Regions from separate parts of the Homo sapiens genome. Here region 2 is linked to region 1. Evidence: fine-mapped expression QTL. Tissue or cell type: whole blood. Region 1 holds a variant in brackets; the other region holds the start of a gene. All regions are shown on one strand. Distances are from middle to middle.

Region 1 (8,101 bases):
CCTACCACTGATTGGCTGTGAGACCATGAACAAGTCCCTTCCCCTCTCTGCACCCTTGTTTCTCCCACTGAACAATGACTCAAAGACCCCAAGGGTCCTTTCCTACTCTGGAAGTCTGGGTAATACTAACTCTAAGTGTGTGGCACCAGGCTGGGTGTGGTGGCTTATGCCTGTAATCTCAGCACTTTGGGAGGCCGAAGCAGGTGGATCACCTGAGGCCAGGAGTTTGAGACCAGCTTGACCAACATGGTGAAATCCTGTCTCTACTAAAAATACAAAAATGAGCTGGGTGTGGTGGCACATGCCTGTAATCCCAGCTACTTGGGAGGCTGAGGCAGAAGAATTGCTTGAACTCAGGAGGCGGAGGTTGCAGTGAGCTGAGATCACACCGTTGTACTCCAGCCTGAGGAACAAGAGCAAAACTCCATCTCAAAAAATAAAATAAATAAATAAATAAATAAATAAATAAATAACACCAGACCTTCAGCCCACTTCCTTTCTGCTGATACAGCCAGGAGCCGGGGCCCCACCGGCCACCCTTAGAGTTCAACTGAGGCTGTCCCCAGCACTGGGTCAGCTCCCAAGGGCAAGCCCAGATGCTGGAGCCAGCCAAACCCATGTGTAGATTAAGTCATGAAGCCCTAGTTTAATGCTTGCCAAAGGGGCACACTCCTTCTTCTACAAGCCAGGAAGTGGTTAAAAGCCTAGAGGCCTGATTTCCCAGCCTCCTGGCTGGGTCCCTGGAGTTGCCTCCCTCCCACAAGCCCAAGCCTGGGTTTCCTGAGCAAGCCTGGGTGTGGACACAGTGGGCCACAAACTGGATGCTGCTACCTGCAAGTGATTAATTGAAGGTGAAACAGCTCATCTGTACTGCAGGGTCCAGCCTGTTTCGGAAAGTCAGCTGCTGACAGGCACAGAGGCCTCTTAGCTAATGAGGTCAGCACTCACCCTGGGGCTCAGAGGGAGAAGATGCTCAGATCGTAGTGACCTGGTCAGGTCTGGGGGAGAGGGAATGGGCTGTAGTGAGAAGTGGACCACAGATGAGTCTGGGAAGAGGCCCAGCCCTGCCCTGGGGACCCCTGATTTGAGAGGGAGACAGGAGAGTGATCTTTGGGAATTCATAAGCTGAGAGACCTAGGGCACGTGACTTCAACTCTCTGGGTCTCAGTTTCCTTGCCTGTAAAATGAAACTATTTAATAATAGCATCTTCCTCATAGGTTTGTTGTAAAGGACTAATGCATGGGAAATGCCCTCACAGTACCTAGTATGCAATGAATGTCTCGTAAAAGGCACTGGAGATTAATTATTATTATTATTATTGTAGAGACAGGGTCTCACGTTGTTGCCCAGGCTGGTCTCAAACTCTTGGCCTCAAGTGATCCCCCGCCTTGGCTTCCCAGAGCACTGGGATTACAGGAGTGAGCAAACTCCTCCCTGCTCCCCTTGTCTCTGGCAGCGTCGCAGTCCTCCAGCACCACGGACAGCACCCCCATCACCAGTTCAGGGGGCCCCATTTGCTGCCGGGGCTGAGAAGCCTCTTTTGCCGGGGAAAGGGGCGGGGGGGGCGGGGAGGGGGGCAGCACCGTTCCTCTAGGGGCTTTTTTTTCCTGGCCTTGCCAGCCAGAGGCATGCCTCCCCAGAGGTAATGTCAGGACTCAGAGCCTCCACACGCTCAAAGGTACAGATTCCCACAGCTTCAAGTAAGCACTTGAGCACTTCGTCTGTGGTCACACAATTTAACCACCTTCTTACTTCTAAGATCTTTCTGCTGTCTTCTACTGGGGCCAGGAAAAAGAGTGTTAGACCAGGACAAGGACTTGGAGTCAGAAGACTTTAGCTTAAATTCTGGCTCCACTACTTCTGCCTGGGTGATCAGGAAAAGTCATTAAACTTCTCCGAGCCTCAGTTTCCTCATCTGTAAAATGGAGTGTTGGGATTCGGTCAGGCTGGTGGAAAAAATATTAGTTATGATAGCCACAAAACCCTTTCGGAAGGCCTGAGGGTTTTCACATGACTTCGGTAATAGACCGGGGCGAAGGTGGGCTGGTCCCATTACCTTCAGTTAAATAGATTAGAGTAGTAAATAACGGGATGTGGGGAAGTTATCTAGTTAACTTGTTTACTCATGTGGTCTCAAGACGAGCCTTTGATGTGTGCTTTTTACTCGGGAAGTCCTCAATGTCAATTACCTCTAATGGCGCTGACTCAAGCTTTTGTTAACTAATCTTAATGAATAAATGTGAGTCTCCCTAGCTGATCGGGGCGGCCACAGTGACAAACCTCTCTTGGTGTGTAGGCGGTCACTCAGCAGGACTGGCAAAACAGAATCTCTGTGTATCAGTGTACGTTTTATTCATCATTTGGGTCAGGGTCTGTGGGCAGACCCTCGTAGCTAATACCCTCTTGTGAGGAGCAATACCTCGACGGAGACAATATTCCCTAGTCTTGTAGCTTGTAGCTTAGTGGGATCATTCATTCATCCTTTCTTGCGGTAACAGGCTTGTTATGAAGAGATTCTGATGCCATTCTCCCACCCACCCACCCAGTCCTGCAGGAGCAAAAAAGAGACCAGGGAGGCTCTACCTTTGCCTAGGATGGTCAGGGAAGGTTTCATGAAGAGAATGATGTTAGACATGTGCCTTTGAAAGATGTGTCTTTGGCCGGGCGCGGTGGCTCATGCCTGTAATCCTAGCATTTTGGGAGGCCAAGGTGGGCAGATTGCCTGAGCTCAGGAGTTTGAGACCAGCCTGGGCAACATGGTGAAACCCGGTCTCTACTAAAATACAAAAAATTAGCCAGGACTGGCAGTGTGCGCCTGTACTCCCAGCTACTCAGGAGGCTGTGGCAGGGGAATCGCTTGAACCCAGGAGCGGAGCTTGCAGTGAGCTGTGATCGTGTCACTGCACTCCATCCTGGGGGACAGACCAAGACTCTGTCTCAAAAAAAAAAAAAAAAAAAAAGAGGGAAGGGAAGAGAAGGGAGAGGGAGAGAGGGGAAGTGGGGGCAGGGGAGAGGGGAAGTGGGGGCAGGGGAGGGGGAATTGGGGGGAGGGGAGGGGATGCTCTGTCAAAAAAAAAAGAGGGAAGGGAAGAGAAGGGAGAGGGGGAGGGGGGCAAGTTGGGGGAGGGGAGGGAAGGGGTGGGGAGGGAAGGGAAGGGAAGGGAAGGGAAGGGAAGGGAAGGGAAGGGAAGGGAAGGGAAGGGAAGGGAAGGGAAGGCAAAAGCCAAGGGCATGTTAAGATCCAGGGACCCTTGGCTAAGAGGGCTACAGTGGAATGGAATTTATGATCCAGGAAACTGCATTCCTGTGAAGGTGGTGGCTGCAAACGCAGGATGAGACCTTCCAGAGAAAAAGCCCAGTGTGGTGACAGCAGGTGGGCAAGGATGTGCCTCCTGAGGAAAAAGATTCTTTCCAACTGTCAGAAACGAGACAGAACTGATAAATACCCATGAAACCAGGTCCTTAAGTTGTGAAACTCATTCTGGGTCTTGTTAAAAATAAGTGTGTGCAACAATCGTTTGTCAAGATACTTTATCAAGCTGGAAAAGAAAAGCCATCTGCATCATGTCCAAGGAATCTAGGTGTGTCCCCACTCCAAATCCTGGCATTGAAGCCAGGTGCAGCCATGACAGGGACATATTCCCTGGAGCACTCTCCTGCTGACCCTTCCCTTCCCTGTGTAAGGACCCTTCTGCAGACCTCCAGCCTTGAACACTTTATATTGAAAGCTTCCCCTGTGCTCACTGCCCAAGAGCGTGGGGCTGGGGGG[G/C]TAAGGACCAGAGGACCAAGAGACACCCCATCAACTTCAGGGTTGGGTCATTCATTCAGGTCACAGCTATTTGTGAGTGGCTACTCTGGGGTTCACCAGAGGACACGAGAGAAATGCAGAAGGAGAAGCACTGGTGCTTATCATGCTGGGGATGATGGATGCATGGCAGAGACATCTAACAGCTGGGGTGCGTCAGGAGAGGAGCATAGCTAGGAGGTCTCCCTGGAGGAGAGATCTTGAAGCATAAGTAGGAGTTGGCGGGACAAAGGAGGAGGAGAAGGATGTCCTGGTCAGGGTGTGGGGGTGAGCAGGAAGAAGGCATGGAGAGGAAAGAGGGAAAAGCATGGACTTGAAGCTGGGCGCGGTGGCTCAATCCTGTAATTCCAGCACTTTGGGAGGCTGAGCCAGGAGAATCATTGGAGGTCAGGAGTTCGAGACCAGCCTGGTCAGCCTGGCCTGTCTCCACTAAAAATACAAAAATTAGCCAGGCATGGTGGCGGGTGCCTGTAATCCCAGCTACTTGGGAGGCTGAGGCAGGAGGATTGCTTGAACCCAGGAGGCAGAGGTTTCAGTGAGTCAAGATCACGCCACTGCACTCCAGCCTGAGAGACAGAGGGAGACTCCATCTCAAAAAATTAAAAAAATTAAAAAAACAAAACAAAACATGGGCTTGTCTTGCTGAGCCCACTAAGCCAGGAGGGGAGGGAGGGCCAGGTCCCCAGGGCCTTCAGACTCAGGCTGAGGACCTAGGACCACACCCTGCAGGCAATAGGGAGCCAGTGAAGGGTATTGAGCTGGGGAGGTCAGATTTGCATTTTGGAAAGATCTCTCTTGCAACTTTTTTTTTTTTTTTTTTTTGAGACGGGGTCTCCTATCACCCAGGCTGGAGTGTAGTGGTACAATTATGGCTCACTGCAGCCTCTACCTCTTGGGCTCAAGTGATCCTCCCACCTCAGCCTCCCAAGTAGCTGGCCACTACTACACACAGGTGCATACAACCATGTCCAGCTAGTTTTTAGAAGTTTTGTAGAGACAGGGTCTCACTAGTTTGTCTCTAACTCCTGGACTCAAGCAACCCTCCTGCCTTGGCCTCCCAAAGCTCTGGGATTGCAGGTGTGAGCCACTGTGCTCAACTCTCTCTTGCAACCTGATGCCCTCAGGCCCTTAAAGGATAACTGATAACCCAGTCCACATGAACCAAGACAGACCCGTGCCGATCAGCCAGTAGCAGATGGGTTCAAATCACTTACTATGTGTGCGTAGTGACTTAACCTCTTTCTTATCTGTAAAATGGGGTTAATATAAGTACCCGCACCTCAGGGTAAGGAGTAAAGGAATAACGTGTGTACAGTGCCTGGGTAGGCGATAAGCTCTATGCATTAAGTGTTAGCTGTTATCAGCCATGAACTATGCCAATCAGTCTAAACCATTACAGGCATGAGTTAGACCAGGAGGAAATATAGATCCATATAAATCAGAACAGATCAGGTCAATAATTACCATTTTAAATCATTACAAACACTCATAGCCCAATCATGGTACTTTTCACAGATACAAACCCACACAGACCAGTAGAGACCAGTAGAGACGGGTAAGAAGAGGGCAGGTGCGGGGCGCGGTGGCTCACGCCTGTAATCCCAGCACTTTGGGGGGCCGAGGCGGGTGGATCACAAGGTCAGGAAATCGAGACCATTCTGGCTAATACGGTGAAACCCCGTCTCTACTAAAAATATGAAAAATTAGCTGGGCGTGGTGGTGGGCGCCTGTAGTCCCAGCTAGTAGGGAGGCTGAGGCAGGAGAATGGTGTGAACCTGGGAGGCAGAGCTTGCAGTGAGCTGAGATCATGCCACTGCACTCCAGCCTGGGCGACAGAGCGAGACTCCGTCTCAAAAAAAAAAAAAAAAAAAAAGAGGAGGGCAGGCCCAGTGGCTCAAACCTGTAATCCCAGCAATTTGGGAGGCTGAGGCGGGTGGATCACCTGAGGTCAGGAGTTCGAGACCAGCCTGGCCAACATGGCAAAACTCTTTTACTAAAAATACAAAAATTAACTGGGTGTGGTGGCGGGCACCTGTGAACCCAGCTACTTGGGAGGCTGAGGCAGGAGAATCGCTTGTACCCAGGAGGCGGAGGTTGCGGTGAACTGAGATTGCGCCACTGCACTCCAGCCTGGGCAACAAAGTGAGACCTTGTCTGGAAAAAAAAAAAAAAAAAAGACGGGTAAGAAGACACTGCAGGGAGAGGCCTGGGAGGAGGTGGCTCAGGGAGCGGGCAGAGCCCAGTGAGCTTCCTCCATGACTCCTTGGAGTCTCTCTGGAGAGGCGCTGGTGCTGGCACGGCTGTTTGTTACCCAACCCTCCAGAAGACGCGGTGGGGGGAGGGGAACTGCTGAAAGCCTTGCTTTCAATAATTCAGCAGCTGGAGCTTCCTGCTGCCCCTGCTGGAGCTGGAGGAAAATCTTGGCCAGAGCCCCAAGGCTGGGGCTGGCTGGGGGTGGGAGGGCTGGTTCCTGGAGGGGCAGGCAGCCTGGCTTGCAAGGGTGCGGGCACTGCAGCTCTGTGTTTTGACCATAGCCCTTGTGGTCCCTCTTCTGCCCTCCCCTTTTCAGTCTAGGGCTGGGTCCAGCCATGCCTGGGCAGGACTCGGGCTGACCCTTTCCCTGCCGTCTCAGTCTGTGCTGGGCAATGGAGGTGGCTGGGCTGGCAAAGTTTCCAGGGCCAAGATGGGGTGTCCGGGGCCGGTGAGGCAGAGAGGGCGAGCCTGCAGACCACAGGAGAAAGCCCTGGTGGCTTAGCTGGCAATGTGCCCAGTCCTACGCTATCCCTGTCCAGCTCCACACCACATTCCACTCCACCCAAGAATGCACTGACCCATGCTGTTCCTCATGCCTGGAAGGTTCTTCCTCATCTACCCTTCCTGCAAGACTGCTCAAGCATCACCTCCTCCGTGAAGCCTTCCCTGACTGCCTGGAAGGACTCCCTGGGGGACGTGCCTCTGCTGTCACCCTGTGGCTACTACTCGCAATCTAGCATGACTGTTGCTCCTTGGCTGACTGAGGGCTGTCCAAGGGCAGAGACTGGGCCAATCCACATCTGTATCCCTAGTGCTCAGCACAGGGCTTGGCACAGAGCAGCCACCTGGGACTGTTTGCTGAGACCCCGCCTGTGTTTGCACCGATGGGAGCTCACTACTTATTGTTTTACCACCATCATCTCTGGGAACTACAGAGGGAGAGGTCCTTGGTCACTGCTCTCACTATGCCTAGACTATGTGCATGCTGACATTTGCATGGGCCTCATGGTCATCTACTTTGTAAGCCCTCGAGTCCAGCCTTGTCTTTGTTTGTTTGTTTGTTTGTTTTTGAGACAGTATCTCGCTGTGTTGTCCAGGCTGGAGTGCAGTGGTGTGATCTCGGCTCACTGCAACCTCCACCTCCTGGGTTCCAGCCATTCTCATGCCTTAGCCACCCAAGTAGCTGGGATTACAGGCGTGTGCCACCATGCCTGGCTAATTTTTTGTACTTTTAGTAGAGACGGGGTTTCACTATGTTGGCCAGGCTGGTCTCAAACTCCTGACCTCAAGTGATCCACCCACCTTGGCTTCCCAGAGTGCTGAGATGACAGGTGTGAGCCACCGCACCCGGCCCCAGCCCTGTCTTTGAATAGATAGGAAGGACTTCTCTGGTCAAGGCTCCTGTCTTTGTTGGCTCTGATTTGGGTTCCTGGAGCAAAGATTTGGGTGGCAACCAAGCAGGCTGCCCAGGGCATCCCCTCAGGCTTCTGCTGGGCTGGCTGAGATCAAAGAGAAAGCCGGCTGGGGGCTGGAGCATCACTGACAAGGGACAAGGAGGGACAAGGAGGCCTCCACTGTCTGCTGCCTCCAGAGGAGTCCACAGTACAGGTAATGCAGCCCAGGTGAGAACAGGTAACAATGCTCAGGTGAGATCAGTGCAGATTGATGTAGCCCAGGACAGGTCATACAGAGCCTTGTAAATGGGACAGACCCAGCCAAGCCAGGAGCTCAGACCGACTGATCAACAGAGGACAGTGGGGACACTGCACACCAGCATGACAGACAGCTGGAAGGTATCAGAACAAGCAACACTGGCTACTGAAAGCAATACAGGCCGGGTATGGTGGCTCACGCCTGTAATCCCAACACTTTGGGAGGCTGAGGCAGGTGGATCACTTGAGGCCAGGAGTTCAAGACCAGCCTAGCCAACATGGCCATCTCTACTAAAAATACAAAAATTAGCCAGGCATGGTGGCTGGTGCCTGTAATCCCAGCTACTTGGGAGGCTGAGGCAGGAGAATTGCTTGAACCTGGGAGGCAGA
Region 2 (8,101 bases), 230 kb after region 1:
AAACCTGAAACAGCAACTCTTTACTTTCCCCTCTTCATCGCCCCGTGGGAACCACCATTCTACTTTTTGTCTCTGTGAATTTGACTACTCTAGGTACCTTATATAAGTTCCTTCCTTTTAAGGCTGAATAATATTCCATTATATGTGTGGAATTCACCAATAAACCCATCTAGGCTGGGTGCTTTCTGTTTTGGAAGGTTACTAATTATTGATTCAATTTATTATTGTTATTTTATTTATTTATTTTTTTTTGAGACGGAGTCTCGCTCTGTCACCCAGGCTGGAGTACAGTAGCACAATCTCGACTCACTGCAAGCTCTGCCTCCCGGGCTCATGCCATTCTTCTGCCTCAGCCTCCCGAGTAACTGGGACTACAGGCATCTGCCACCACTCAATTTCTTTAATATATGTAGGCCTATTCAGATTGTCTGTTTCTTCTTGTGTGAGTTTTGGCAGTCTGTGTCTTTCAAGGAATTGATCAATCACATTTGTGGATATGAATATTCTTCTATTATCCTTTTAATGTCTGTGGGATCTGTAGCAATGTCTTCTCTTTCACTTCTGTATTAGTAATTTGTGTCTTCTGTTTAAGTTAGCCTGGCTAGCGGTGTATCGATTTTATTGATCTTTTCAAAGAACCGGCTTTTGGTTTTTTTGATTTTCTCTATTGATTTCCTGTTTTCAATTTCATTCTTTGCATGGCGTATCTAGTTTTCCTAGCACCATTTGTTGAAATGACTGTCCTTTTCCCCCATCGAATGGTCTTGGCATACTATCAAAAATTCCTTGACAGGCCCGGTGCAGTGGCTCACACCTGTAATCCCAGCAGGTTGGGAGGCAGAGGTGGGCAGATCACCTGAGGTCAGGAGTTTGAGACCAGCCTGGCTGACATGGCAAAACCTCGTCTCTGCTAAAAATACAAAAATGAGCCAGGCGTGGTGGCACATGCCTGTAATCCCAGTTACTTGGGAGGCTGAGGCACAAGGATCACTTGAACCCAGGAGGCGGAGGTTGCAGTAAGCTGAGATTGCACAATTGCACTCCAGCCTGGGCAACAGAGTGAGACTCAGTCTCAAAAAAAAAAAAAATTGCTTGACCATATAGGTAAGGGTTTATTTCTAGGCTAGGCTGGCTATTCTATTCCACTAGTCTCTTTGTCTTCATGTCCATACCATACTGTTTTGATTACTGTAGTTTTGTTAGACTAAGGTTTGAAATCAGGAAGTGTGAGACCTACAACTTTGTTCTTCTTAAATATTTTTTATGGGGTCCTTTGAGATTCCATATGAATTTTAGGATGGATTTTTCTATTTCTACAAAAAATGTTGTTGGGATTTTGATAGGGATTGCCTTAAACCTGTGGATTACTTTGAGTTGTATTGGCATCTTAATAATATTAAGCTTTCCAACCCATGAACACAGGATGTCTTTTCATTTGTTTGTACCTTTAATTTCTTTCAGCACTGTTTTGGAGTTTTCAGTGTACAAGTCTTTTGCCTCCTTGGTTAAATATTTTATTCTTTTTGATGCTACTGTAAATGGAATTGTTTTCTTAATTTCCTTTTTGAATTGTTTAGTATATAGACATGCAACTAATTTTTGCATGTTGGTTTTGTATCCTGCATCCTTGCTGAATTTATTAGCTGTGTGTGTGTGTTGTGTGTGTGTGTAATCTTTAGGGTTTTCTACATATGAAATCATGTCATCTTCAAACCAGAGGTAAGGTTACTTCTTCCTATCCATTGTAGATGCCTTTTATTTCTTTTTCTTGCCTCATTGTTCTGGCTAGGACTTCTAGGACTATGTTGAACAGAAGTGATGAAAGCAAGCACCCTTGCCTTGTTCCCGATCTTAGAGGAAAAACTTTATCTTTCGCCATTGAGTGTGATGTTAGCTGTGGGCTTCTCATATATGGCCTTTATCAGGTTGACATCACTTCCTTCCTTTTTTGTTTTTGAGACAGAGTCTTGCTCTGTCACCCAGGCTGGAGTGCAGTGGTGCAATCTCGGCTCACTGCAACCTCCGCCTCCCAGGTTCAAGCAATTTTCCTGCCTCAGCCACCCAAGTAGCTGGGATTACAGGCATGTGCCACCATACTTGGCTAATTTTTGCATTTTTTTAGTAGAGACAGGGTTTCGCCACATTGGCCAGGCTAGTCTCGAACTCCTGACCTCAGGTGATCCACCCGTCTCGGCCCCCCAAAGTGCCAGGATTACAGGCATGAGCCACTGTGCCTGGCCATTTCCTTCTGTTCCTAGTTTTAGGCACCACTCTTGCCTTTCCCTTTTTCGTTTGTCCTCAATCCAGATGGAGACCAGGTGCTCACCCTCCTTCATGCAGCAACACTTCCTGTACTTTAAGGTGGATGCCTGAAGGAGGGCAGCTTGAATTTTCTTCTTCAGAGAATTTGCCCACAGTTCTCTTCCTCTTTCCATTAATTTGTCCAGTCACAATGCAAACCTTTGTTGAGACTGCACTAGGCTTGGCATAGTGTTTGCCATCCACAGGTGGTTTCATGTATATTGTCTTAATCTTCCCAGAAGCTGTTTGAAATAGGAATTATTTCTGTCACCAGATTTAGAAGCAGAGGGGCTTGCCCAAGGCAGAGTCAGCTCCCATGACTCCCAGCACTGATGCATTCATGCCAGGCTGCCCTGTTTCTGCATCCAGCCCTTAAGCCGTGTTGCTGGCACTGTGCAAGTGCCTCCTGTCTCTGAAAGCTGCCTCTGATCCAAGTGGAAAGGGCCCAGGACCAATCGTGAAGTTCACTTTCTCTCTTTGTATTCATAGAGGTCCTGGGCCTATGTCAAGAAGTGCAAAAACAACATGTGTCCAAATCGGGGATTGGTGAGCCAGCTGCTGGAATGGGAGAAGACTATCCTTGGAGATTCCATCACAAACATCATGGATCCGCTCTACTGATCTTCTCCGAGGCCCACCGAAGGGTACTGAAGAGCCTCACCTGGGGGCATTTTGTGGGTGGAGGGCCAGAGTGTGTATACCCAGGCTTGTCTGGAAGGAGAAGGCCTTTGCTGCCTGAAAGTCTCATGTTAGCCTCCTGTACTGATTCTTCCCAAGTGCCTGTTCACGCCACCTAGCTGATGCGCCCTGCTCAGGTTCACCAAGAACCCGCATCCCTGAGGTGTCGCGGGCCATCCCAACTGCACCCCTGAGGCTGCCTCTGGAAGAGCATCTGGCTGCTAGAGCAGCTGCCCTGCATCCCCCTGGTGACTTAGACCCTTTGGAGGCTGCCTGGGGGTACCCAGAGGTTGCCTGTGTTGGTTCACAGAGGATGTCACAATAGCCACCAATAGGCAGTCCCCTAGTCCCAGAGATACCAAGCCCAGCCTTGTCTAGCCCCCAGGCTCCTAGAATGGGATCACACCCTTGCCTCATCCCCAGCGCTTCCTGCCATCCACCCCTTGAAACAGATTTTCTTTCCCTGCTCCCCACTCATTTCTGCCTGGCTGTGTTCACCAAGGAGAGATTCTCACCCCCTCCCCCATCTCCCTATCCACGTTTCTAGAAATTCCTAAGGTCTTAAAAGTTTTCCTTTTTTTTACCCCCTTTCCTTTTTTTTGGAGGCACGGTCTTGCTGTGTCTCTCAGGCTGGAGTGCAGTGGCGCAATCATGGCTCACTGCAGCCTCAACTTCCCTGGGCTCAAGCGATCCTCCCACCTCAACCTCCTGAGTGAGTAGCTGGGAATGCAGGCATGCACCATCACACCTGGCTAATTTATTTTTATTTTTGTAGAAACAGGGTCTTGCTCTGTTGCCTAGGCTGGTCTCGAACTTCTGGGCTCAAGTGATCCTCCAGCCTCGGCCTCCCCAAAATGCTGGGATTACAGGTGTGGGCCACGGCACCCAGTTGGAAGTTGTTTTCCAAATGCACTTCTCCAAAGCTGGCAGCACCCACAGAACAAACTGGGCATCAGGAGACGGCACAGACTAGGGGACTGGTAGGGGATTAGGATGTCCATCCATGCAGGACCTTCCCCAAGTCCATTCGGCAACCATTCCCTGCCACCGCGTGGGTGGGGCTGGGAACAGAGAGATGAATGCCGTCCCACCACTTAGCGCGCTCTGTGGAGGGATGGGGGTGGGAGGGGGTGGGGGATTCCCCTCAACAGAAGGGCAGGCCTTCAAGGAGGAGTGGGGTTTTGCCAGAGGGGGAACGGCTTTACACACAGCCCTGGCTTTCCTCAGGGTGTGAGTTGGGACAGAGCCCGGGATGGCTGCAGAGCTCCGATTAGGGACCTCCTGGTAGGCAGGACACAGCCGCTGGAAAGTTTTAAGCATGAACATGATGGGGAATCAGCCTTGTGTTTTGGGAAGGGCAGTCCGGTGGCCGCGAGAAGGGACAGTGGAGGTGAGGCAGGGAGAAAGGAGGCCGCTGTAAAAATCCAAGCGAGAGAAGCAGCTCTAACTCCCTTCCCCAAAGAGGCTCAGCTTCCCAAGGACGAAAATGTTGCAAGCAGGTGTCACCTCCCTGCACCTTGGTTTGCTCTCAGCATGACGGGCCAGAGCCCTGCTGGCTGCACCACGCGGCTGGCACAGTCAGTGCAGTCCAGGCCCGGGGGCTGCAGCCGTCCCAGTCCCGGTCCAGGCCGCGAGTCCCGGGGCTAGCAACCGCCCTTGCATACGGCCCCGCCCATACCCCGCCCCTGTCCCGGATTGGCTGGGGTGGGGGGCGTGGCCTTTCCCCATTGGTGCCCGTGGCGGCGCGAGCCCGGAAGCGGACGGGGGCGGTGGCGGAGGAGCCTCGGGTGGGCCGGGGTTGCTGCGCCGTCCTCCACTACTGGCTACTGGCGCTGCAGCCATGCAGCCCCCGCCCCCGGGCCCGCTGGGCGACTGCCTGCGGGACTGGGAGGATCTACAGCAGGACTTCCAGAACATCCAGGTTAGCGCCGCTGCGGACGCCGGGTCGCCCCCGAGCCGCGTCTCGCTGGCTCAGGGTCAAGGGTCGGGCAGCCCTGGGTCAGGCAGTGGGGAGCTAAGGGTCAGGGGTCGGGGCCCTGGCGTCACTGCCAAGGGGGGCGAGGCCCCTGGTCCTGGTGTCCACTGCCACCACCTCCAGTGTCCGGGAACCCCGGCGGGACCCCATCGCGCTGGGCGACCTCGGCTTCCAATGAGGGCCTTGGAAAGGGGCCCAGACCCCGACCCCGTCCCTTCCCAGAAGAGAGCGGCCGCCTGAGTCACACACGGGCGGGCCCAGCCTTGGGTCAGCCACTCAGCAAACGCGCAGCGGGCAGCGCCCGAGAGGCAGCCCAGGTCGGGGGAGCAGCGTTTAGGGGGGTGTCCTCGGCCTGGATGGGGGACGCCCCAGGCAGAGGGATACCGCGCGCCGCCGAGGCCTTTGGAAGGAAAGAGGGGACTTGACAGGCCCATGTGGCTGCATCAAGGAGAACCAGGGGAGGGGTGGGACGGGTGGGAGGGGTGGGCGGGGCTAGGCCCTGCAGGGACGCTCTGGCCTGGCAGAGATCAGAGTCCCTCCGAGGCCAGTGGAAAGCTACGGGAGGAATTGTCTGGACTGAGCTCCCCAGGGCCACCGTGGCTGTTCTGTCCAGAGGCCAGGGAGGAGGAGGCTGTTGGCCTCATCCAGGCAGGGAAGAGGGCGGTGGCTGTGGGTGGGCAGAAGTGGCACGTGCTGGGGTCCGAGGGGGCGTGGTGACCCCTCCTGGGCATGAGAAACAAGATCCAGACAGAGTAGAGCCCTGGCCAGCTGATGGCTTGGTTAGCCCTTGGCCTCTCCTGGACTGGTTCCAACTGCTTCCTGTGGGCATTGAAACCCAGCTGCCCCTGGCCCTGCCAAGGCCCCTGCCATTGGTGCTTCTCCCCAGAGACTGAGCAGACCCAGTCTCCCCGCCTGGCCGCCGCTGTCCTGGCCACAGCCCCTGCTTGGCTCTCCTCACACTGCCCCTTGCCCCATCTCTAGGCTGCGCCTTCTTGAGACTCACCTACCAGGGCAAAGTGCTTGGGGAATCCTTGGGCCAAAGGTGCTAGGGGAAGGGAGTGGGGCTGGCCTTAGAGCAGGAGGCTCTAGGGTTGAAACCTGATGACCTTTAACCTGGGAAGAAGATGTCAGGGATTCCTGAGAACCTGAGCTCCTCCTGTACTGGAAGGCTAGATAGGCAGGAGGAGCTGAGAGGATAGAGGGGTGGCTCTGGGCTGCCTGCTTGGTCCAGGAGGTGGCCCTGGGGGCCTAAGCTCCAGACTCAAGGTAGGAGAAAGAGTCTGTCCTTGTAGGGTGGGGACAACTAGCAGATGGGCTGAGACTAAGAAAACCTTGGCTGGGTGCGGTGGCTTATGCCTGTAATCCCAGCACTTTGGGAGGCCGAGGCAGGCAGATCACCTGAGGTCAGGAGTTCAAGACCAGCCTGGCCAACATGGTGAAACCCTGTCTCTACAAAAATACAAAAATTAGCCAGGCATGATGGCAGGTGCCTGTAATCCTAGCTACTTGGGAGGCTGAGGCAGAAGAATGGTTTGAACCCGGGAGGCGGAGGTTGGAGTGAGCTGAGATCCTGCCATTGCACTTCAGCCTGGGCAACAGAACAAGACTGTCTCAAAACAAAAACAAAAACAAAAACACCTAGTCTGTTTTTGGAGGAGGGGTGCTGTGGGGGTCTCTGGGCTCACAGGAGGACACCCAGGTCCTTGCCTGCCTTGGGGAGACAGCCACCTCATCCCTGGGCAGGCACAGTTCTACCTCCTTTCCCGCTGAGCGAAACCCTCCCAGCAGCCCTGGGGGAGCCTGAGCGCCACGTCCTGCCTGCAGGCTCTGGCTCAGTAGCTCCCCAACTGGCCTGAGCCTCTCCCCTCCGGCCCCCAGGAGACCCATCGGCTCTACCGCCTGAAGCTGGAGGAGCTGACCAAACTTCAGAACAATTGCACCAGCTCCATCACGCGGCAGAAGAAGCGGCTCCAGGAGCTGGCCCTCGCCCTGAAGAAGTTAGGATCCCCTACCCCACCCGCCATGGGCAGAGTGTGGGGTGGGAGGGCTGGCGCTGTGAGACCCTGGGCACCGCCCCTCCCCTCTCTGGGCCCTGTTTGCCCTTCTGCCCCTGTGGGAGTCAGGGAGGACACTTGGGAGTCCTCTTGCCCTGACTGTTTCTGGCCTTACCCGCAGATGCAAACCCTCCCTCCCAGCAGAGGCCGAGGGGGCCGCACAGGAGCTGGAGAACCAGATGAAAGAGCGCCAAGGCCTCTTCTTTGACATGGAGGCCTATTTGCCTAAGAAGAATGGGTGAGGGCCCCCACCGCCACCCCCAGCTCAGTTCACAGCCACTCCTGAAGCCGGGTGCTGCCTCCTCTTGGTCATTATAGTCAGCAAATGTTCCCTGGGCCCAGTACAGGCTGAGCAATGAGGCACAGTGCTGACTTCAGGGGAGACACCTGGCTGAGAGTGACATTTCACTGTGATAGGTGCTTTGTAGCATGGGGAATGAGGTGGCACAGTGAGGGACACCTGACCCAGTCCAGGAGGTCGCAGAAGGCTTCCTGGATTAGGGGATGGGTGGGCTGAGTCTTACAGAATAAAGAGTGGGCCGGGCGTGGTGGCTCTCACCTGTAATCTCAGCACTCTGGGAGATGGAGGTGGGAGGATCACTTGAACTCAGGAGTTCAAGACCAGCCTGGGTGACATACTGAGACCCTATGTCTCTATTTATTTAAAAAGAACAAATAGGCTGGGCGCGGTGGCTCATGCCTGTAATCCCAGCACTTTTTTGGGAAGCCAAGGCAGATCGCTTGAGGTCGGGAGTTCAAGACCCGCCTGGGCAACATGGTAAAACCCATCTCTACTAAAAATACAAAAATTAGCCGGGCATTGTGGCATGCACCTGTAATCCCAGCTACTTGGGAGGCTGAGACAGGAGAATCACTTGAACCCGGGAGGCGGAGGCTGCAGTGAGCTGAGATCGCACCACCGGACTGTAGCCTGGGCAACAGAGTGAGACTCTGTCTTAAAAAATAAATAAGTAAATAAATAAAAAAAATGAGGCAGACACATGGGCTGAGGGCGAGAGGTAGCAGCAGGTGGACGGGCCATGAGAACTTGTAGTGGCCAGAGGTCGGGGCGGGAGGTGAGAGGCAGCCAAGA

Evidence for each region. PIP is the estimated chance that this variant, and not a neighbour inherited with it, causes the effect.
Region 2: TMEM120A starts here. The variant in region 1 is fine-mapped to the expression of TMEM120A in whole blood (TOPMed, PIP 0.94).

What each region holds. Positions count from the first base shown.
Region 1 is chr7:76,218,938-76,227,038 of GRCh38, reverse strand. The region is part of intron 1 of SRRM3 (serine/arginine repetitive matrix 3); the gene reads right to left. Among named protein-coding and RNA genes, the nearest start is that of SRRM3, 21 kb to the right of the region's middle. RefSeq lists a silencer at 1,361-1,561 and enhancers at 1,906-2,410, 3,749-4,249. The variant G/C (reference allele first, on the strand shown) is at 3,771.
Region 2 is chr7:75,991,289-75,999,389 of GRCh38, reverse strand. It overlaps TMEM120A (transmembrane protein 120A), which reads left to right and starts at 4,795. Exons shown (of 12, transcript NM_031925.3): 1 at 4,795-4,900; 2 at 6,833-6,951; 3 at 7,130-7,246. The coding sequence starts at 4,820. It overlaps STYXL1 (serine/threonine/tyrosine interacting like 1), which reads left to right. Exons shown (of 9, transcript NM_001317785.2): 9 at 2,791-3,048. The coding sequence ends at 2,922. RefSeq lists silencers at 4,554-5,003, 5,014-5,073, 8,065-8,101 and an enhancer at 7,255-7,314.